7 linked regions of the Homo sapiens genome follow. The protein of the gene in region 4 interacts with the protein of the main gene of each other region in a pairwise test. Each region holds a gene or a part of one and is shown on either strand. Other genes may lie near its edges.

What was found.
Region 1: the proteins of YTHDF1 (region 4) and C6orf15 interact in binary tests that used the Homo sapiens proteins (3 or more experiments, as listed by UniProt).
Region 2: the proteins of YTHDF1 (region 4) and KRTAP13-1 interact in a two-hybrid assay, tested with the Homo sapiens proteins (one large-scale study listed by BioGRID).
Region 3: the proteins of YTHDF1 (region 4) and ERI3 interact in a two-hybrid assay, tested with the Homo sapiens proteins (one large-scale study listed by BioGRID).
Region 5: the proteins of YTHDF1 (region 4) and BICD2 interact in a two-hybrid assay, tested with the Homo sapiens proteins (one large-scale study listed by BioGRID).
Region 6: the proteins of YTHDF1 (region 4) and KRTAP26-1 interact in binary tests that used the Homo sapiens proteins (3 or more experiments, as listed by UniProt).
Region 7: the proteins of YTHDF1 (region 4) and LASP1 interact in binary tests that used the Homo sapiens proteins (3 or more experiments, as listed by UniProt).

The regions. Positions count from the first base shown.
Region 1 is NC_000006.12:31,110,723-31,113,983, forward strand, and holds C6orf15 (uncharacterized protein C6orf15 precursor), read right to left. Parts: upstream 1,854-3,261; 5' UTR 1,834-1,853; coding exon 1,767-1,833; intron 1,570-1,766; coding exon 659-1,569; 3' UTR 501-658; downstream 1-500.
Region 2 is NC_000021.9:30,394,844-30,397,322, reverse strand, and holds KRTAP13-1 (keratin-associated protein 13-1), read right to left. Parts: upstream 1,293-2,479; 5' UTR 1,237-1,292; coding exon 718-1,236; 3' UTR 501-717; downstream 1-500. UniProt on the Homo sapiens protein: In the hair cortex, hair keratin intermediate filaments are embedded in an interfilamentous matrix, consisting of hair keratin-associated proteins (KRTAP), which are essential for the formation of a rigid and resistant hair shaft through their extensive disulfide bond cross-linking with abundant cysteine residues of hair keratins.
Region 3 is NC_000001.11:44,338,258-44,341,757, reverse strand, and holds part of ERI3 (ERI1 exoribonuclease 3), read left to right. Parts: intron 1-2,435; coding exon 2,436-2,713; intron 2,714-3,500.
Region 4 is NC_000020.11:63,199,132-63,202,631, reverse strand, and holds part of YTHDF1 (YTH domain-containing family protein 1), read left to right. Parts: coding exon 1-345; intron 346-3,500.
Region 5 is NC_000009.12:92,754,834-92,758,333, forward strand, and holds part of BICD2 (protein bicaudal D homolog 2), read right to left. Parts: intron 1-3,500. UniProt on the Homo sapiens protein: Acts as an adapter protein linking the dynein motor complex to various cargos and converts dynein from a non-processive to a highly processive motor in the presence of dynactin.
Region 6 is NC_000021.9:30,318,624-30,321,452, forward strand, and holds KRTAP26-1 (keratin-associated protein 26-1), read right to left. Parts: upstream 1,693-2,829; 5' UTR 1,413-1,692; coding exon 780-1,412; 3' UTR 501-779; downstream 1-500. UniProt on the Homo sapiens protein: In the hair cortex, hair keratin intermediate filaments are embedded in an interfilamentous matrix, consisting of hair keratin-associated proteins (KRTAP), which are essential for the formation of a rigid and resistant hair shaft through their extensive disulfide bond cross-linking with abundant cysteine residues of hair keratins.
Region 7 is NC_000017.11:38,918,558-38,922,057, forward strand, and holds the end of LASP1 (LIM and SH3 domain protein 1), read left to right. Parts: intron 1-47; coding exon 48-221; 3' UTR 222-3,213; downstream 3,214-3,500. UniProt on the Homo sapiens protein: Plays an important role in the regulation of dynamic actin-based, cytoskeletal activities.

The sequences.
Region 1 (3,261 bases), on a different chromosome or scaffold from region 4:
AAGTCTGTGGTTCTGTGGGACACAATGTGCTAAATGATGCCTGTAAGGGAGGAGGTCGATGTACCTCCACTTCCAAGAAGCTTGACTTTCCGGGGAAGAAAAGACAAGTGAAGCGTAGACATTGCGACTTTTGGCTTCCTGTTTCTGTGAGTTGCAAGGAATCCTGTCCACCTGGCCCTGGAGCCGCCTTCTGGGACCTCATCCTTGCCCCCTGCTGCAGGTGCCATCTCAATTAGTCCTGCTGTCCCTCCTCCCCCTTTCAGATTCCAGCACAATTCTGGAACAGCTCTCCCACCTGGCCGGGGTGAGACTGAGGCTCCACCCTCAAGCACTTGGGCACTGATCCTTTGTGAAGGATGGGGATAGCAAGACAGCGTCTGCAGGGGCCCCTAGAGGGCCGTGGGGATGGCTAGAAAACAGGAATGAACAGACTCACTTCAGCTTATGCCCAGACTCACTTCAGCTTATGCCCAGAAACAAAGAAACCAAGGAGAAGCAAATTCCATAAGTGCTTTTATTTTATTGGAGATGAGCAGGGGAGGCACTGAAAAGTGGGGATAGTGCTGGAAACATGCTGACAGGGCCTGGATTGAGCCCACACAGCAAGGGGCGGGAGCAGGACTCTAACTCCCAATGTTGGGTTTCCCTCTATCGTGCTCTAGCCCCACTGCAACCTAGGGCTTGGAGGATTAGGGAAGCCAGCTGGGATGTTCCAAGAAGAGCCAGGAGGGCGGAGGACTCCAGGAGGAAATGGGTTATTGATACCTGGGTATAGATGAATATTCCCCCAGCTGCCTCCTGGATACCGATTAATATTCCCCCAGCTGCCTCCTGGATACCGATTAATATTTCCCCAGCTGCCTCCTGGATACCGATTAATATTTCCCCAGCTGGTACCTGGGGGTTGATTATTGATACCCCAGATTCCCTCAGGGTGTGGCATGGGCCTCGTTCCCCAACCAGTCCCAGGGCCTCCACCTCCCCAGGACACACTGGGATTCAGGGTACCCCAGGGGTGATCAGGCAGAACCCTGTGGATGAGAGACCAGGGAGGGCGTTGGGAAAGGATTTTTCCCCCGGCTCCCAGTGAATTAGAACGGGGCAGTCGTCTGGACTCCGAGTCCTGGTGGAGGAGTGAAGCCTTGGGTGAGAGGCCTGTGGCATCGGGAGAAGACTCCCCAGGCAAAGGGCCACTGCCCGGAGCGAGGGCCGCAGCACTGGAGAGGTAAGAGAGTTCTTCAGGCAGCGCTTCCCCCAGGCGGTCCTCAGCCGCAGCAGCCATCATCTGCCAAGGATCCTCAGGGGGCCAGGAATCCATGGCAGGCAGCCCCCACGATGGAGGCCACCTCTGCACTGCAGAACCTCCTGCAGGTGGGAAGCCATCTGATGCAGGCACGCTGAGCTTCAGAGGAACCCTTGCCAAGTCATTAGACCTAGGGTCCAGAGCGGGCTGCGGATGTTCAGAGTTAGAGGGGCCAGTGGAGGAAGGTTGTCCGAGCTGAGGCAAGTTGGTCCCCAAGTTTTGGGAAACTTTCTCCTCCACAACACCGATGCTCCGGGCAAAGAGGCCTGAGGGAAAGGGAAGATAAAGCAACCAGTGGTCTCCAGTCCCCGAGTCCCCAGTTCCCTTTGCTTCCCCTATGCCTATTCTTCCTTTTCCCTCAGGGACCTAAATGTGTACCCTCCTGCCTTTACCCCTTTCCTTAATTCCTGTTTCCTGGGGGACCTCCAGTCCCTCCTGCCCAAGGGCATCACGGCCTCCATACCTGGGAGATGAAGACAGACCAGGAGCAGGCCCAGAGGAGCGCAGCTCCCTGCCACGCGGCCCTGCATCCTGCTCAGCACCCGATCTCCCTCAGCCCCAAGACAGCCAGCCCTTTATCCTGGTAGTGGGGTGGGGGACAGCAGAAACAGGCTGGGCTAGTGGTTGTGAAGACAATAAACCTCCACATTCCACCCTCATTCCTAATGTGGTCTGTGGCAACAGGTGTCACTTGAATGAATGTCCCAGAGGAAGCTGGGTGTCTCCCGCCCTGGCTCCTTTCCTTGACCTCCCTGCCCCTTCTTGGCCCAGGTGTCCTGGCTCACAGCTCATCCCTGGTTGCCAGCCTCCCCAGCCCTGCTTCTCTATACACAAGGACCTCCACCCTGGGGTCCCACTCTCTTAATTGCCTCTCTCAGCAACAGAAACACTTGTTTCTTTTTGGGAGCTGGATTGTTTCCTCCCAGCACCCCTTTCTCATGCATCCTCATATCTCCTTCACCTTGGCCCCAACCTGCAGGAGGTTCTGGGGTGCAGAAGTGGCCCCATCTGAGGAGCTGCTCCTACATGAGACCCTGGATCTAGCTAGGGAAATGGACCTGGATGCCATCCTTATGAGATACTGACTAATTCCTGCTGCTGCAGTGACAAATTACCATGAACCGAATGGCTTACAACAACATGGATTTATTACTTTACAGTTTTGGAGATCAGAAGTCTAAAACAGGTCTCAGTGGATTAAAATAAAGGTGTCAGCAGGGCTGTGATTCTTTCTGGGGGCCTCAGGGGAAAATCCCTTTCCCTGCTTTTTCACCTTCTAGAGGCATCCTGTGTTCTTTGGCTCATGGTCCCCTTCCTCCATCTCCAAAGCCAAAATCAGCCATTTCTTACACTGTATCACTCAGACTTCCTCTTCTGCCTCCCATGTCCACATTAAGGGACCTGGTGACTACACTGGACCCACCTGAATAATCCATGATAATCTCTGTGAAGTCAGCCGAATAGCAACCTTAATCCCATCTGGAACCTTAATTTCCCTTTGCCATGTAACCTAATTCCTACGTTCCAGGGATTAGGATGTGGACATCTTTGATGGTGTTGGGGTTGAAGACATCATTCTGCCTGCTACTGGTGGTCAGATGTGCCATAGAGTATAAGAAACCTTGGGAGAAAGTGGCTATTTCCAAGTAACAGTAGAGGAGAGCCTTTAAATGCTGCTGTCAAATGGCCAGGACTTGATCCTTGTTGAAGCTGGGCGATGAGAATGTAGAGATTCATTAACAGTTTGTTGGCTTTTAAATATGTTTGCAAATTTTATTATAAAAATGCAATGGCTTTGTTCTCTCCATGGCTTCCGGGAGGCCCCAGGAGTAGGCTTCCCTGGCTGCCCAAGGTCTAAACATGAGCTGTTGGCTGATTCTACTGCTGTGTCCTCCCCACCTGCCCCTGCTGGCTTAACCACTGGAGGAGTGAAGAGCTCCTCTCCAGAACTGGCAGTG
Region 2 (2,479 bases), on a different chromosome or scaffold from region 4:
AAAGTTACTTCAAATCACTTTTGTTTCTCTTCAATTCCATTTTTCTTTTATGTATATCTATAACCATATTGTTCTAAATAGTATTTTTTTCTCTGCAGATTCCTGATATAACTATCAACTAGTTTGCTACCTTATGCTTGTTGGCATAGACACAAGAATCCACATTTTATAAGGGGATCAAGCTAATTCCTGATTCTGATATTTTAATGAATAAAAGTCTGTAAATTTAGTAGACTTCCACTACCTGTAGTTTGAATAACAAAAATCTCTGAGGCCCCCAAAAGTTTGTCTGAATCGCAAACTTCATATGATTTTGAAACCTATTCCTATATATATACACCAATTGTTTCATAATAATTGCCTAATACATCACAACCAAAACCCTAGCAATATAAAACCACCACAAACATAGCTGAATATGAGACCAATGGATTTATTGGATTAAAATGATTTGACTTTTTATACAATTGTGGAAGAAAATCGAATAATATAAATTCTACTTTTAATGTGTATTTCAAGATTTATTTTGAGCTAGTTCTCCAATTACAGTTTTTCAGATGAAGCCTGCCAGCCAGTATTTGGGGACAAAGACAAACTGAGAACTTGATAATTATAGAATAAGAGGCTAATTCTTTCTGTACATGATGAAGACAATAAAGGTTATGAGTAGAGGCATTGAAGGCATTAGCCAACAAAATCAGCAATTTAACAAGATGATCAATAGTAGAAGCCTGATCCACAAGTTGGTCTGTAGCAAGAAGACTGGCAGCTCCTAGAAGCCAAGTAGGTTGGGCGGCAGAATCCAACGCCATAGCCCAGGGAAGGGAAGCCACAGCCTCCATAACCCAGGGATCTGAAGCCACTGGACCCACAGCCCACTGAGTAGCAGCTCCTCGATCCATAGCCCAGGGAGCGGCAGCTGCTGGATCCAAAGCCTAGAGACCCAGAGTAAGTTGTCTGGCAGGGACTGCAGAGCAAGGAGGTTCTGGGACGGTAGCAGGAGGTCTGGCAGGGGCTGGACTCCACATAGGATGTCTGGCAGCTGGTGGGCTCCCAGCAGGTCTGCTGACAGCCCCTATAGAGAGAGGAACCCAGCTGGCACGTGCTGGGAGAGCAGAGGTCAGTGCTGTAGACCTGGTTGCTGGGGTAGGAAAAGCCACAGGAGGAGGCTGGGTAGTGCAGGTAGCCACCACAGGAGCGGGAGGAGAAGTTTCCAGAGCAGCAGTTGTAGGACATGTTGATGGGAGATGTGAGTTCAGCTGAGTTACACTGAGAAGATTCTGAGTTTGCATGCCACATCTGGACAGGACCATTTATATACGTTCAGCCGTGGGTGTGGCACCTTACAGGGTCATCCTTCACACATTTAAGCTCCCACATTTCATATAAGCAACTTAGTAATCTTCTTTGTCATTGCAGTTAACTAACACCCTTCATCTTATATTTATGGAAGAACTCCTTTTGTTTTTACAGCTCTGCGTCAATGAAATGCATTTATGTTACAAATGCTATGACAGTATGTGATTAGTCCCTACTCCATTATGTCCAGGAAAACCCCTCTTATTTTCTCTGCCCATGATTTATACATCTGCTCCTGTTTTGGCTGGGAAATTCTTTCTGTCTTGGGTGGGGATAGCAATGTATTCATCTTTTTTTGTCAGTGGCCTAGAGGCAGAAATCTTATTGTTCACACTCTCCAAAATAGTTTGCCATCTGTTATTTACTATAATCAGTGCTTGTAAGTCCAGTCTCGAGGGCCTATATAAAAGTAAGCCAAAGGAATTGAGAGATAACTAGACATAGATATCATCTTGAACAAATTTTTTTAAAAAATTAGTATTTAGAAAAAAGAAATCAAAACAAAAGCAAAAAATAAATAAATACAAATACAACAATAAGGACCCATGTGAAAAAAAGGAAAGTAGAAGACACTGCTGAGATGAGGTAGGAAACAAGTCAGAGTAGTCACAATAGCAGAAGGATGCTCAGGACTCCATCCTAAAAGCAAATCAAAATGCTTTCAAATAAACTTATTTGATGACTTTTGTATGATGCATTCATATTTGTAAGTGTTCTGGAGCCTACCTGTCTACAACACCTCTAAACCCCCACCTCAAAATGTTGACTGCCTTCTGAGCATTTGCGGGGTAACACCAGCTTCTATGTTTTTCGTGACTCTGTCCCAGCCCTCTTTAAAGAGGTGGATTTAGGTTTTGTGGTGTTGAAAAGTATAATTTGGAGATCCTCATTAAAAACACAATATTAGGAATATAATAATAGATATAAACATGGATATTAACTTAGAATAAAAACTTCCATAGTTAACAAAACCCAAGATGTCACAAAATCAAGACAATAATATACCTTTATCATCATCCTCATCTATAATCTTTTTCTACATTTTTTGGTTGCATAGTCGGTCTTTGATCATCTCTACACATGACAATGGTTTTGTCCACATGATTTTCTGTAGAACAAA
Region 3 (3,500 bases), on a different chromosome or scaffold from region 4:
GCACCCCGCCTGGCTAATTTTTAATTTATTTTTTGTAGAGATTGGGTCTCACTATGTTTCCCAGGCTGGTTTCGAACTCCTGGGCTCAAGCAATACTTCTGCCTCAGCCTCCCACAGTGCTGGGATTACAGGTGCAGTCACTGTGCTTGGCCAAAAGAAGCTTTTTGATGTAGATGAAATCAGGTGAGAAAGCAAGGCCTGCAGGCAAGAGGACCACTGGCCATCAGAATAGGGTATATATAGTATGCTCTGTCAGAGGTCTGGAGCATTTTAGGGTTGCAGAAGACATCGATATTACTCTCTGAGGCTGCCTTATGAATTAATTGGATTTGTAGGCCCAGAATCTGGGGATCCAGGCTTGGCCAGGTGGGCATAGCCCAATAGGATAGTAGTAATAACATTAGGATAATATATATTAGGCTGTTATATGCCAGGCACTGGTCTTAGTGCTTTACATGTGTTGTCTCATTTTGTTCTCACTTAAGGAGTAGGTGCTATTGTTATTGTCATTTTACAGATGAGGAATTGAAGAACACAGCATGCCCAAGGTGCCATGGGTAGTAAGTGGTAAAGCTAGGATTCAAACTTGGAAGCCCTCCTTACTCATCATGCTTAATTGCTTATAGTATTTGGTAGACAGGATTGACTGACTGTATATACTACGCATATTCTGTGCACACTGTAGAACATTAGGACTTTCAGAAGTCTTTACACTTTTTTATGGGGTTAGAGAAGAGTCTAAGTCCTTGAGGGACTTTGGATCCAAACTAGAATGGGTAATTTGAGCAGACTGGTGTCTTCCATCTCATTAAGGCTTCCAGTACTATTCAGGAATAGGCGATGAGAAGATTCTGGCTTTCAAAGGGATATTGGCCCTCTTGCCCTTCCAGGAGACTCCATATTGAAACTCAAGCCAGCGTTTGTCTACCTGGGCTGAGTTTTGGCTGTATTTTTGGTGAGGCTATAAAGCAGTGGTGAAAACAAGTGCTGTGCTTGTGCAGGATCCATGAAGAACTTAAAATATTTTTTGGTCTTAGCTCCACTGAATCCCCCTGAAATCTCATTATAGGGATAGGGAAATTGAGGACCTACACTAGCGTATATCCTACTATATATATAGGCAAGTTACTGTAGCTCATTCAGTGAGTCAGGAGAGAGATGGGAAGACAGCCATACTTGGCATTATCTGCTTCTGTTCAGGTGGTAGTGGCCTCATTGCCTTTGAGTACGCGCTGGACTTCACAGGGTGCTATCCCTCTACCCTATGTGAAGGGAGCCAGGTGCCCACTTGCAGCCATCAGAGGCAAGCCTTTGGTTGTGTTGGAATGAGGCTTCGGAAAGCACAAACTATGGCCATTACTGTATTGTACAGTGAGATTTCTTATTTGAGGATTAAAGTTGAGAGAAATTTGAATGTTGAGTATTAAAGGGAGAAAGACAACATTTCTGCTTTGTTCCTTTTTTCTTTTTAAGGAAGTTTGAGTTATTCGTGAGTAAAACTTAGGCTTTGATTTTTGTATTTAGTTAGGCCTCTGAGGAGCAGGCATTCTGCAAATTTAAGGGGAAAACTTAAAGGAAAAGTGATTTGATTTTTTTTTTTTTTTTTTTGCACATGTTCACTCAGAAAACTTTACTAGACTTTTAGCCATGTTCCTATTACTGCCACATCTGGGTTTTCTTTTTCTTCCCTATTTAAAAAGTCCCGCAGTCATTCAGGGCCTCGAGTAGAGACCGAGTCTAAGGCAGCAAATGAGAAGGCCTAAGGCTGCAGCCAGCTGTGCTCTCCAGGCACTGTTCATTCCCCCAGGGTGCCACTTACTAGTGTGGGGGTTGGGGGATCACCAGAATGTCAGAGCAAACCCCTGTGATTCGCTTTGTTTGCCTTCACCTTGGGAGAGGGGAGGAGGGTATGTGGAGACATCAAGATACAGACTGGAAAGCCAGGGGCAAATGGCTCCTAGTGGAGCTGAGAAAAGAACCTTGGACATTTTCTGCTGCTTGTCTGAGTCTACTTAGCTTCCAGGACTCATTGTACAACAGGGTCACCTCACGTTACTTTGGACCCATAGCTTTAATGTTAACTGTTGCCACCTGAGAAGTGACTGCACAATTTTTCTCTCTTCTCTCTTTTGAACTTTAGAGCTCCATTTAAAGATGCAGGCCAGTGTTGCATGTTGTTTTGAGAATGATCTGGGAGACTCAGAGCTGTAATAATGCTGCAGGTGCTGCTATTAGGGTCTTGAACTTTAGTAACGAATACTATGATTTAGAAAAGGGGCCCAGAAACACTGGGGAGTGGCCCATGTTGCGTGGATATTCCTGAAGACTAGATGGAACAGGGCCACAGTGGGAGGGAGTAACCCAGGCTCTCTGTTCTTTTTTTTTTTTTCTTTCTTTTCTTTTTTTTTTTTTTTTTTAAACTTTCCTCCCCTAAGTTTTAGATGCTTCTGGATGTTCAATGCTAGCACCTTTACAGACTGGAGCAGCTCGATTTTCTTCGTATTTACTTTCAAGAGCAAGAAAAGTGCTGGGCTCCCACTTATTTTCTCCCTGTGGTGTTCCGGAGTTCTGCTCCATATCCACCAGAAAGCTGGCGGCCCACGGCTTTGGCGCATCCATGGCGGCAATGGTGTCCTTCCCTCCCCAGAGGTATCACTACTTTTTAGTGCTGGACTTTGAGGCCACGTGCGACAAGCCACAGATTCATCCTCAGGTAACTGTTCCATCATTGCTTTAGAAAAGGTGGGGGGGGCAAGGAGGGAGGGAGGATAGTTTTGCTTCCTGGGACACAAAGGAGCTTTCTCATGCCTTCCTGTCTTTTAGCTACTCATTTAGAGTTCCTGTCTAGGAAGCAGGACTTGTTTCAGGTATGCTAGTGTAAGGTAGACCTGAGAAGTCTCTGGAGAGAACTGGGTACATTGTTTCTCTCTAGTCTCAGCTTTTGGGAATCAAAATATTTCCTTCTCCCGTCCTTCCTTTCTCTGTTCTCTTCTTTCCTCCATTCTCCTGCTACTGCCACTTGTTCCTTTAAGGAGTGCTATAGTAGCTGGCCTCCAAGATGACCTCAATGATTCTTAACTCCTGCTATTCACACCCTTGGTAGTTCCCCTCCTGCACTGAATCAAAGATATTCCTGTATAGCTAATAGAATACAGTGGAAGAGATAATGTACGACTTCTGAGGGTAAGTTATAAAAAGTATTGCAGTCCACTTTGCTCTTTTGGACCACTTGCTCTGGGGGAAGCCAGCTGTCATGCTGCCAGGACACTCAAGCAGCCCTGTGGAGAGGCACATGTGTGTAGGAACTGAGGCTCTTAGCCAAAATCCAGTGCCCAACTTGCCAGTCATGAGAATGAGCTATCTTAGAAGTGAATCTACCAGCCCCGGTCAGGCCTTCAGATGACTGCAGCCCCGGTGGACATGTGACTTCAACCTTAGGAGGGACTTTGAGCCAGACCAGCCAGCTAAGCCACTCTCAAATTCCTGACTCACAGGAACTG
Region 4 (3,500 bases):
CTCTTCAGCGTCAATGGGAGTGGGCATTTTTGTGGGGTGGCCGAGATGAAGTCCCCCGTGGACTACGGCACCAGTGCCGGGGTCTGGTCTCAGGACAAGTGGAAGGGGAAGTTTGATGTCCAGTGGATTTTTGTTAAGGATGTACCCAATAACCAGCTCCGGCACATCAGGCTGGAGAATAACGACAACAAACCGGTCACAAACTCCCGGGACACCCAGGAGGTGCCCTTAGAAAAAGCCAAGCAAGTGCTGAAAATTATCAGTTCCTACAAGCACACAACCTCCATCTTCGACGACTTTGCTCACTACGAGAAGCGCCAGGAGGAGGAGGAGGTGGTGCGCAAGGTGAGGCTGGGTGTTGCAGGCAACTGCCATGCAGATGTGTCCTTGGTGCCGTACTTAGACCAGGTGGCCCGGTGGTGAGCAGATGCGGCAGGTCCGCCGAGCTGAGTCTCGTGACAGGCAGCTCCCAGTTGGCCGCAGGTGGGCGGGCCCAGGTCCTGGCAGCCTCGTGGGCTTTCCCTGCGGAGAGTACTGCTAGTAACCAGTGATGGTATTTGGGTAGATGTCACCGAACGACTTTGATCACTTTCCAATTATAATTGAATAATTGGGACCACAGTGTACACATTCTGTTTTTCTGTTACAAAGAATTTGAGGGTAACTTTCTCCTCTCCTTTTTGAATTGTGATACTTTCTGGAACAGTGCTTCCCAGCCTCCGTCCATGAGGAACACTTAGGTGATATTCACGAAGCACTGCGGTGGGCACGTAGGGCATCGAGACCCCACCTGGCCAAGGGCCCTTGCTTCCCAGGGCACTGTCCCTCAGTAGTTGGGAATCTCTGGTCTTTGATCTGGAGGTCGTTGCTTTATTTTTCTTTTAAAAACCCAGTATCCTGCAGTTTTTGGAAACAAACTCACTCCATCTAGGTCGTAAAGAAAATGGTGGTGGTGGGGTAGGTTTGGAATCCAGACATTTTATAATGACAAATATGGATCCTATATCAAAAATTCATTGACTGGGCCTTTTTGAGACAGTCCTGATTTCCTGGGATACTTGTAGCCAAACTCCTGAGTCTGTGCTGTCATGTGATGTCTGACGGGATTGAGTGTGTTTGCTCTTCAGAAGGGCTCAGATGCCCGTAAACTGGCACCAGCAATGGGAAAATGATGATGCTGACATACTTCATAATGCTTCCTTTATTCGAGAGAGTTCATCCTGAGATTCTCTCCTGCTTTTTAAAAAATATCCCTTCCTGAAATGTCAGTTGATAATAGATGGGTTTTCAGTGTTTTTTTCAGTTCTCTATGTTAAAGGAATTATTCACCTGTGAGCACCAAGTGTCCTAATGTATTTTGGGCAGAAAGGCGTGTACATGGCATATATAGGGATGTATAGAGTAGAGCCGCCTGCACTGTCTGCAGTCTTACATTATGCAAGTCCTGAACAACTTGGGGCTTGTAGAACTTTGGAAAAGTATCAGTCCCTCTCTTTTGTGAGAAAAGAAGTGGATGTCATTTATTTCCAGTTACTGAATTCTGAATTAGTTACTGAAATTCTGTGTTTTAGGTCTTTTTTTTTTTTTTAAATGGAGTTTTGCTCTGTTGCCCAGGCTGGAGTGCAGTGGCGCAATCTCGGCTCACTGCAACCTCCACCTCCTGGGTTCGAGTGATTGTCCTGCCTTAGCCTTCCAGGTAGCTGGGATTACAGACAATAGCTCGGATTACAGACTTTTAGGTATAAAATGAATACTGAATTGCTAAAGTTGCAGGGATAATTGCTAATGAAGCTTTAGGTCCTTAGCTGGCTAAACTGGAAGCTGGCTGTGTGTGTGTGCGCGCACAGTTTTTCTTCTTAAATACCGTAATACTTGGGTTTTCATAAAGTGTGCGGACTCCTGACCTGGTTGGTGTTTTTAAAACTCTAGTGTCCTACAACTTGCATTATAAAAACTTGATCTAGATAACTGCTTTTGTGTGTCGGGTTATGGGTTAAGCATCTTGGTAAGCGGCCTGCAGGGTCTGTGGGCATCTGCCTGCAGGCAAGATCCAAGTGTTCCTCAAACCACTGGGTGCTCCAAGGCGAGTCCAACAGAGCCGCTGGTGGAGCATCATTGGAAGGAACTTGGTAACCCTCCCCTAAACTGTTAGCCAAGCTGGAGAACTCTGGGCCCATATGGGTCAGTGTTAACATTAATTCATTTTATTGAAAGTGACAAATGAGAACCTGGTTTGTTAATGTTTGGTGGAATTTCAAATAGCTTTTTTTTTTTTGAGCCAATCTCACCGTCAGCCAGGCTGGAGTGCAGTAGTGCAATTTTGGCTCACTGCAACCTCAACCTCCGAGGTTCAGGCCATTTTCCTGCCTCAGCCTCCCAAGTAGCTGGGATCATAGGCGCCCACCACTGCACCCAGCTAAATTTTGTATTTTTAGTAGAGATAGGGTTTCACCATGTTGGCCAGGCTGGTCTCGATCTCTTGACCTCAAGTGATCTGCCCACCTCAGCCTCCCAAAGTGCTGGGATTACAGGTGTGAGCCACCGTGCCCCGCCTCAAATAGCTTTTTGTTTTTGTTTTTGAGACAGGTCTTTCTCCGTCTGCCGGGCTGGAGTGCAGTGACTTAATCACAGCTTGTTGTAGCCTTGACCTCCTGGGCTCAAGCGGTCTTCCTGCCTCAGCCTCCTGAGTAGCTACAGGCGTGCACCACCACGCCTGGCTAATTTTTGTATTTTTTTGTAGAATCAGTGTCTTGCTATGTTGCCCAGGCTGGTCTTGAACTCCTGGGCTCAAACAGTCTTCCCACCTTGGCTTCACAAAGTGCTGGGATTATAGGAATGAGCCACTGTGCCCGGCGTCAAATATCTTTTAAGCTTATTGGGCAGTGTAGAGAAATGGAAGTGGTCCTTGAGGAGGTCCCCAGACTGGACTTCGCTGCTGGCTCTCCCTGCCTGCGAAGGTGCTCTAGGCCTTGTGCTTAACGGGCTGGGCTAGTGGCTCATCCAGGATTGGAGTCTTAGGTGTCTTGAGGCTGAGACTCTGGGTGTCTAATGCTTTCTCCCTCTGGGTTTCCCATGAAGAGTCAGTGCAGTTTTGTTTTGTTTTTTTTTTTTTTAAGACAGAATCTTGCACTGTTGCCCAGTCTGGAGTGTAGTGGTGTGATCTCGGCTCACTGCAAGCTCTGCCTCCTGGGTTCACACAATTCTCCTGCCTCAGCCTCCCGGGTAGCTGGGACTACAGGCCCTTGCCACCACGCCCAGCGAATTTTTTGTGCTTTTAGTAGAGATGGGGTTTCACCGTGTTAGCCAGGATGGTCTCGATCTCCTGACCTCGTGATCCGCCCGCTTTGGCCTCCCAAAGTGCTGGGATTACAGGCGTGAGCCACTGCGCCCGGCCGAGTCAGTGCAGTTTTAAGAACAAAGTAGTGTGCCGAGGAGAGGGTTGTGCGCCTGTGCTGGTAGAGCCCCCGGGCGGTTTTCTCAAGGTTCTCTCAGGACTTCGA
Region 5 (3,500 bases), on a different chromosome or scaffold from region 4:
GGATGTATGTCACCTCAGGACCCTGTAATAATTGCATTAACTGCACAAATTGTACAGCATGTGTGTTTGAGCAATATGAAATGTGGGCACCTTGAAAAAAAGAACAGGATAACAGCAATTGTTCAGGGAACAAGAGAGATAACCTTAAACTCTGACCACTGGTGAGCCGGGCAGAACAGAGCCATATTTCTCTTCTTTCAAAAGCAAATGGGAGAAATATCACTGAATTCTTTTTCTCAGCATGGAACGTCCCTGAGAAAGAGAATGCACACCTAGGGGTAGGTCTCTGAACTGGCCCCCCTGGGGCATACCTGTCTCTTATGGTCGAGATTGCAGAGGTGAGATAGACTCCAGTTTCCCATAGCGCTCCCAGGCTTATTAGGAAGAGGAAATTCCCGCCTAATAAATTTTGGTCAGACCAGTTGATCTCAAAACCCTGTCTCCTGATAAGATGTTATCAATAACAATGGTGCCCGAAACTTCATTAGCAATTTTAATTTCGCCTCGGTCCTGTGGTCCTGTGATCTTGCCCTGCCTCCACTTGCCTCATGATATTCTATTACCTTGTAAAGTACTTGATGTCTGTGACCCACACCTATTCGCACACTCCCTCCCCTTTTGAAACTCCCTAATAAAAACTTGCTGGTTTTTGCGGCTTGTGGGGCATCACGGAACCTACCGACATGTGATGTCTCCCCCGGATGCCCAGCTTTAAAATTTCTCTCTTTTGTACTCTGTCCCTTTATTTCTCAAGCTGGCCGACACTTAAGGAAAATGAAAAGAACTTACGTGAATATCGGGGCATGTTCCCCGATAATTATCTTAGGTCACATTTTAGGACACCCAAGGAATCCCCTAGGCTTATGGACATGCTTGTCATCAACCAGCCCTTACACCCCAGCATGTTGTGAGGGTGGTACTGAGGGAACATGGGTGTGAGGAAGAAGGGCAGAGCAAAGCAGATGGGGAGCCCAGGCAGCAGGCAACACATGCCTGCAAAGCAGCTGCGTCCTGGGCCTGAGCCCGCCATGATGCTGTCACTAGAGGGAGAAATTGATCCACCTCCAAGGGCGTCAGGAATGCACTGGCCTAAAACAAGGAAACTGAGGCCCAGAGAGGGGAGAGACTGGCTCCAGGTCACAGAAGTCAAGCCAAGAATGGCTGAGTCCACTGCCATGCTAGTAAGAGTATGAGTGGTCCTCACTATGACCTCAGCACCCTCAATGGTAGGACAGTGACAATACTAGTTCCTCCCTTCTGGTTTAGAAGGGCTTGGCATCTACACCCACTAGATGACAACATCACCTCAGGTGGGCAGAGCTCCACAGTAAAGGCTGGGGCGACAGATGAACCAGAATAGGTGATGACAATGCAGCAATGCAAGAGCCAAGCCATGATGCATCAGCTGAAGGAGGCACCCTGGCTACTTTTTTTTTTTTTTTGTCTGAGACGGAGTCTCGCTCTGTTGCCCAGGCTGGAGTGCAGTGGCACGATCTCGGCTCACTGCAAGCTCCGCCTCCCGGGTTCATGCCATTCTCCTGCCTCAGCCTCCCAAGTAGCTGGGACTACAGGTGCCTGCCACCAAGCCCGGCTAATTTTTTGTATTTTTAGTAGAGACGGGGTTTCACCGTGTTAGCCAGGATGGTCTCGATCTGCTGACCTCGTGATCCGCCTGCCTCAGCCTCCCAAAGTGCTGGGATTACAGGCGTGAGCCACTGCGCCCGGCCCCTGGCTAATATTTTAAAAAAGAAAAGAGAGGCCAGGCACAGTGGCTCACGCCTGTAATCCCAGCACTTTGGGAGGCCGAGGCAGGCAGATCATGAGGTCAGGAGTTCAAGACCTGCCTAACAGGATGAAACCCTGTCTCTACTAAAAATACAAAAGTTAGCCAGACGTGGTGGTGCACGCCTGTAATCCCAGCTACTCAGGAGGCTCAGGCAGGAGAATCGCTTGAACCCGGGAGGCAGAGGTTGCAGTGAGCAGACATCGCGCCACTGCACTACAGCCTGGGCAACAGAGTGAGACTCCGTCTCAAAAAAAAAAAAAGGAAATAAAAGAGAAAGACAAGAGTAAGGTGTCTGGCAGGGGCAGATAAAGTGGGAATCTCCGCCTACCGGCACCCTCCACAGCATAAAAATAGAGTAGCCAGGGCTAATGCCAGTGCAGTATGAAAGGGGACAGGACAGGCCACACATGGCGCTGTCTTTAAAATGACAAGGTCTGTAATCCTAGCACCTTGCTGGGCCGAGGCAGACTGATTGCCTGAACTCAGGAATTCAAGACCAGCCCGGGCAACATGGTGAAACCCCGCCTCTACTAAAATACAAAAAATTAGCCAGGTGTGGCAGTGTGCACCTATGGTCCCAGCTACTTTGGAGGCTGAGGTAGGAGAGTTGCTTGAACACAGGAGGCAGAGATTGCAGTGAGCCAAGATCACGCCACTGCACTCCAGCCTGGGCGACAGAACGAGACTGTCTCCAAAAAAAAAAAAAAAAAAAAAAAAAAATTGAGAAGGCCTTCAACCAAATGCAACCTGCAGATCCTGCTTGGCTTCTGAAGAAACAAAGTAACTGTAAAATGAAATTTATGAGCCAAACTGGGGAAATCCAAACACTGACTGGACAACAGATGACACTAAAGAATTTTTGTTAGTTTCTTAGGTGTGAAAGTTCAACAATGGTTAAGTTTTGTAAGAAAAGATTCTATTTTCTATTAGCTGGGCATGGTGGCAGGCGCCTATAGTCCCAGCTACTGCGGGGGGGCGGGGGGGAGCTGAGGCAGGAGAATGGTGTGAACCCAGGAGGCGGAGCTTGCAGTAAGCCGAGATCGCGCCATTGTACTCCAGCCTGGGTGACAGAGTGAGACTCCATCTCAAAAAAAAAAAGAAAAGATTCTATTTTCTTAGCAAAACAACTGATATACTTACAGACACAGCTACACAGGATGAACTGCGGTAGAAACAAGACCGGCCACAGCTGCAAACTGCAGGTGCAGGGCAGGAGCATACATGGACTCACTCTATTACTCTCTCCACCTTTGATTATGTGGAAACATCCAACAAAGAAGGTGGCTTTAAAAAATGAGTAAAGGCTGGGCGCGGTGGCTCACGCCTGTAATCCCAGCACTTTGGGAGGCTGAGGCGAGTGGATCATCTGAGGTCAACAGTTTGAGACCAGTCTGACCAACATGGTGAAACCTCATCTCTACTAAAAATACAAAAATTAGCCGGGCGTGGTGGTGGGCTCCTGTAATCCCAGCTACTCGGGAGGCTGAGGCAGGAGAATTGCTTGAACCTGGAAGGCAGAGTTTGCAGTGAGTCGAGATCGTGCCACTGCACTCCACGCTGGGCAACAGAGCTAGACTCTGTCTCAAATAATAATAATAATAATAATAATAATATGAATAAATAAATAAATAAGTAAATAATGAGTAAAGCAGCCAGGCGCAGTGGCTCACGCCTGTAATCCCAGCACTTTGGGAGGCTGAGGCAGGCAGATCAC
Region 6 (2,829 bases), on a different chromosome or scaffold from region 4:
TTTGGGGACCCATGTGTAAGTCAGGATCGCAGGAGCTTAGTTTTATTATTTGCAATATTGAGCAAAAGAGCATGAAGCCAGAGAGGTATGGGGGAGAAAGACAGTGAGGGAACTAGGTGTCATGCTAAGAGGTTTGAATATTTATCTTATGGGAATAGATTATAGGAAGCCATCAAAGGCGTAAGCAGAAACTTGGTTAGGTTTGCAATTAGAAAGAACATTCTGGTGGAAGTGTGTTCATGGGGTAGAGAGATAAGAGACATCACTCCTAATTTTTCCTTTTCAAAACAGCTTTCCCAAGGACTTTTTGGGTCTCTCAAGTACATAGGGTCAGAAGTCTAAAAAGCAGCTTAAGGAATAAACCATCAAACAATCCCTCTACTGTCAGGTAAGAATATATGGTTGAGTATCACTTGTCCAGCTCAGTCATCTTGCAAGCAATTGACGTTGGTTATTTCTGTGTTGAAATTAAGTCATGAAACACAAAGCGCTGAACCAGATTCTTAATTTGGACTTAATCGCATTTATTATAGTGCAAAACAAATACATTCTTCCCAGACCAGAGCAACATTGAATAGCATTGTAAACTAATTTTTTTGATGTCAAGGAAAGATGAAAACAAGATAAAACATGCGAGAGAAGCAGCTTGCATTAGATCAGGCACAGTAAAACTAAGAAACATCAGTTGCTACTAGCAAAGAAGCAAAAGTCCATGGAGTTTGAATTTTTGTTGTGGATGCTCAGAGTGATTATTCACTGGAACAAAGAAGCTGCTGGTTTCACAGTCCAGAGCAAGATGGACGACACGTGCTGAACACATGGGTCAGAGGTTGGCAACCACTGAACAGAGGCCCCAGAGGTCTGAGGCTGCTGGACACAACGTGAAGACTTTGAGGACGATAGGCCAAGCAACTCGAGGGTTGGCATCCAGAAGTGAGGAGGTTTTGGGGCTGGCAACTCTTGGACAAGCAGAATTGGGGGCGATAGGCATTGGGCACACAGTCTCCTATGGGCTGGTAACTATTGAGCAGCGGCCTCAGTGGACGACAGCCGCTGGACACATACCTCTGTGGTCTACAGGATACTGGAAGGCAGGAACTGGAGAAGAAAGAAGCAGGAAGAAAACTGCTTCCTTGGCAAGGCCTGGGCACGTAGTAAGCAGTGGAAGAACCGCAAGAGGTTTCAAGATTGCCGGTCTCACAGTGGACCGGCTGGCAGCTGGTTGGTTCACCGCAGGTCTCTTGGCAGTTGTCTGTGACCCAGGTATGGTCTTGAGAGCTAGTGGGTAAGTAGAGGACATCTCCACAGCTCACGCTGGTAGGGCAGAGGTCGATGGAGGTGAGAGGAATATGGCGGGAGGTTCTGAGAGATCCTGAGTTGGAGTTTCCCGAGCAGTAGTTGGGGCAAGACATAGTGAGGTTGTGAGAGCAGGCTGAAGTTGAGGCAAAGAAGTGAGTGTCTGAAGTTTGTTCTGCCCTTCCTTAGCTTGACCCTTTATTTATCCCTAGAAGGTGGTGCTTCTGCGTGCAGACTCTTCCTCTTGTTGTATGAAGATGCATCAGAACTCTTTATTATAGCCAAGGAAGTGAGGCTTCCACCCTCCATAAAACTGGATGCTCCTTGCAATGCCATCCATTGATTACGTCTATCTATAAACCAATGCGACTGAGTTTTAATAGGATCTATCCTTCTTAAATTATCCAAACAAAACAGACACATTTTAAAGCCTATGTGCTTATTCCAATTATAACCACCATTGCACAAACATTCTTAAGATTCCTCTCTTAGAATTGTCTTTGAAAGTTGTAGCAACTTCTTTGAAACAGTGAGAACTTACATCTTTTTGAAGAAAAATTCTATTCTTCTTGGAAATTGCCAGAAGTGAGTAACTTGGAACAAGTATAAGAGAAAATGAAAATCCTTGCAAACTATATGACAGAAATATGGACAATTTCAATATGTTTTGCTTGGTTAGAATTTATTTTTCTAAGTTGTGATTTGCTTTATTTCAGAATTCTATTCAGACTTGACTTTCTACCAAAATATCTTTATTCAAAAATATGTGCTCATTTTAGTCATTTCAATAAATAAATAAGCTGAGTGAAGCTGAAACCTTGGCTTATGTTTAAGATATTCTTGAATATAGATAATGAAGTTGGGCCAAGTTAAAATTATGTATCCTACTGTGAACAAAAGCAGAGAAGTAGACCTCTTAAAGAAAGTCAGGCATCTTGACATTTTTCATGATTATTTCAAGGTTATGTATTGCATGGTTTCTCATATTCCAACTGAAAAAATATTGTTCTTGGTTAAAAAATACACTGATTATGACATGAATTTATTTTGCTTTCTACATTGGCCTTGATGTCAATTTCCAAAAAGGAGCTTCTAAACTGCTTTACATAGGGAAAAGCATCAGGATAAATTATTGTTTTCCTAAGTTTTAGTACTTTAAAGGTCATTTGAGAATATGTATTTCTGGTAAAATTGTTTTAAAAAATGTATGATTTTAGTTAGTTTCAACTATCCCTCTATATTTTTCTCATACTGACATACCCAGTGGCTCCAGTAGCTATTTTAATGGGATTTTAAATTATCTGCTGGCTCTAAGTTCCAATTCCTTTTGGCTAGTCAATTTAAATCATAACACTTTCTTCTATTTTGGTGTTTGAGGGACATACTTGTGCTTATCCAGTCTCCCTCTGTCCTGGAGGAGTGAAATCTCTGAAACAGAAAGTTGGTTTCTCAATGAGACAACACTAGACTATTTTACTACTGGGGGAGAAATATAAAAATAAAATGGTATAATCCCGGAGGTCCTGTACTAAC
Region 7 (3,500 bases), on a different chromosome or scaffold from region 4:
GGTGAGCCGGCATGCAGGGCCCTAGGCTGACCACACTTCCCCCACAGAAGCGGTACCGCGCGGTGTATGACTACAGCGCCGCCGACGAGGACGAGGTCTCCTTCCAGGACGGGGACACCATCGTCAACGTGCAGCAGATCGACGACGGCTGGATGTACGGGACGGTGGAGCGCACCGGCGACACGGGGATGCTGCCGGCCAACTACGTGGAGGCCATCTGAACCCGCAGCGCCCCCATCTGTCTTCAGCACATTCCACGGCATCGCATCCGTCCTGGGCGTGACCCGTCCATTCTTCAGTGTCTCTGTTTTTTAAAACCTGCGACAGCTTGTGATTCCTACCCCTCTTCCAGCTTCTTTTGCCAACTGAAGCCTTCTTCTGCCACTTCTGCGGGCTCCCTCCTCTGGCAGGCTTCCCCCTTGATCGACTTCTTGGTTTTCTCTCTGGATGGAACGGGCATGGGCCTCTCTGGGGGAGGCAGGGCTGGAATGGGAGACCTGTTGGCCTGTGGGCCTCACCTGCCCCTCTGTTCTCTCCCCTCACATCCTCCTGCCCAGCTCCTCACATACCCACACATTCCAGGGCTGGGGTGAGCCTGACTGCCAGGACCCCAGGTCAGGGGCTCCCTACATTCCCCAGAGTGGGATCCACTTCTTGGTTCCTGGGATGGCGATGGGGACTCTGCCGCTGTGTAGGGACCAGTGGGATGGGCTCTACCTCTCTTTCTCAAAGAGGGGGCTCTGCCCACCTGGGGTCTCTCTCCCTACCTCCCTCCTCAGGGGCAACAACAGGAGAATGGGGTTCCTGCTGTGGGGCGAATTCATCCCCTCCCCGCGCGTTCCTTCGCACACTGTGATTTTGCCCTCCTGCCCACGCAGACCTGCAGCGGGCAAAGAGCTCCCGAGGAAGCACAGCTTGGGTCAGGTTCTTGCCTTTCTTAATTTTAGGGACAGCTACCGGAAGGAGGGGAACAAGGAGTTCTCTTCCGCAGCCCCTTTCCCCACGCCCACCCCCAGTCTCCAGGGACCCTTGCCTGCCTCCTAGGCTGGAAGCCATGGTCCCGAAGTGTAGGGCAAGGGTGCCTCAGGACCTTTTGGTCTTCAGCCTCCCTCAGCCCCCAGGATCTGGGTTAGGTGGCCGCTCCTCCCTGCTCCTCATGGGAAGATGTCTCAGAGCCTTCCATGACCTCCCCTCCCCAGCCCAATGCCAAGTGGACTTGGAGCTGCACAAAGTCAGCAGGGACCACTAAATCTCCAAGACCTGGTGTGCGGAGGCAGGAGCATGTATGTCTGCAGGTGTCTGACACGCAAGTGTGTGAGTGTGAGTGTGAGAGATGGGGCGGGGGTGTGTCTGTAGGTGTCTCTGGGCCTGTGTGTGGGTGGGGTTATGTGAGGGTATGAAGAGCTGTCTTCCCCTGAGAGTTTCCTCAGAACCCACAGTGAGAGGGGAGGGCTCCTGGGGCAGAGAAGTTCCTTAGGTTTTCTTTGGAATGAAATTCCTCCTTCCCCCCATCTCTGAGTGGAGGAAGCCCACCAATCTGCCCTTTGCAGTGTGCAGGGTGGAAGGTAAGAGGTTGGTGTGGAGTTGGGGCTGCCATAGGGTCTGCAGCCTGCTGGGGCTAAGCGGTGGAGGAAGGCTCTGTCACTCCAGGCATATGTTTCCCCATCTCTGTCTGGGGCTACAGAATAGGGTGGCAGAAGTGTCACCCTGTGGGTGTCTCCCTCGGGGGCTCTTCCCCTAGACCTCCCCCTCACTTACATAAAGCTCCCTTGAAGCAAGAAAGAGGGTCCCAGGGCTGCAAAACTGGAAGCACAGCCTCGGGGATGGGGAGGGAAAGACGGTGCTATATCCAGTTCCTGCTCTCTGCTCATGGGTGGCTGTGACAACCCTGGCCTCACTTGATTCATCTCTGGTTTTCTTGCCACCCTCTGGGAGTCCCCATCCCATTTTCATCCTGAGCCCAACCAGGCCCTGCCATTGGCCTCTTGTCCCTTGGCACACTTGTACCCACAGGTGAGGGGCAGGACCTGAAGGTATTGGCCTGTTCAACAATCAGTCATCATGGGTGTTTTTGTCAACTGCTTGTTAATTGATTTGGGGATGTTTGCCCCGAATGAGAGGTTGAGGAAAAGACTGTGGGTGGGGAGGCCCTGCCTGACCCATCCCTTTTCCTTTCTGGCCCCAGCCTAGGTGGAGGCAAGTGGAATATCTTATATTGGGCGATTTGGGGGCTCGGGGAGGCAGAGAATCTCTTGGGAGTCTTGGGTGGCGCTGGTGCATTCTGTTTCCTCTTGATCTCAAAGCACAATGTGGATTTGGGGACCAAAGGTCAGGGACACATCCCCTTAGAGGACCTGAGTTTGGGAGAGTGGTGAGTGGAAGGGAGGAGCAGCAAGAAGCAGCCTGTTTTCACTCAGCTTAATTCTCCTTCCCAGATAAGGCAAGCCAGTCATGGAATCTTGCTGCAGGCCCTCCCTCTACTCTTCCTGTCCTAAAAATAGGGGCCGTTTTCTTACACACCCCCAGAGAGAGGAGGGACTGTCACACTGGTGCTGAGTGACCGGGGGCTGCTGGGCGTCTGTTCTTTACCAAAACCATCCATCCCTAGAAGAGCACAGAGCCCTGAGGGGCTGGGCTGGGCTGGGCTGAGCCCCTGGTCTTCTCTACAGTTCACAGAGGTCTTTCAGCTCATTTAATCCCAGGAAAGAGGCATCAAAGCTAGAATGTGAATATAACTTTTGTGGACCAATACTAAGAATAACAAGAAGCCCAGTGGTGAGGAAAGTGCGTTCTCCCAGCACTGCCTCCTGTTTTCTCCCTCTCATGTCCCTCCAGGGAAAATGACTTTATTGCTTAATTTCTGCCTTTCCCCCCTCACACATGCACTTTTGGGCCTTTTTTTATAGCTGGAAAAAACAAAATACCACCCTACAAACCTGTATTTAAAAAGAAACAGAAATGACCACGTGAAATTTGCCTCTGTCCAAACATTTCATCCGTGTGTATGTGTATGTGTGTGAGTGTGTGAAGCCGCCAGTTCATCTTTTTATATGGGGTTGTTGTCTCATTTTGGTCTGTTTTGGTCCCCTCCCTCGTGGGCTTGTGCTCGGGATCAAACCTTTCTGGCCTGTTATGATTCTGAACATTTGACTTGAACCACAAGTGAATCTTTCTCCTGGTGACTCAAATAAAAGTATAATTTTTACCTGCGGACTTGGTTTCCTCTCTGGCTCTGAGCTGCTGTTGTGTGTGTCTGTGTGTGGGTGTGTGTCTCTAGCTGTAAGGTGCTGCTGTGTGTGTGTGTGTCTAGCTGTAAGGTGCCACTGTGTGTGTGTGTGTGTGTGTGTCCTGTCTGCTTGGGGGCACTGGCCTGTGGCCCTCCTGGGACCTCTGCTGCCCCTCGGGGAGAGAATGACTTGTCTGGATGCCAAGGGGGAGTTTGCTGCTGTCTGTCAGGCCCTTGGCCCCTACTTCCTCCTTGCTGAGAACTCCCCACCAAC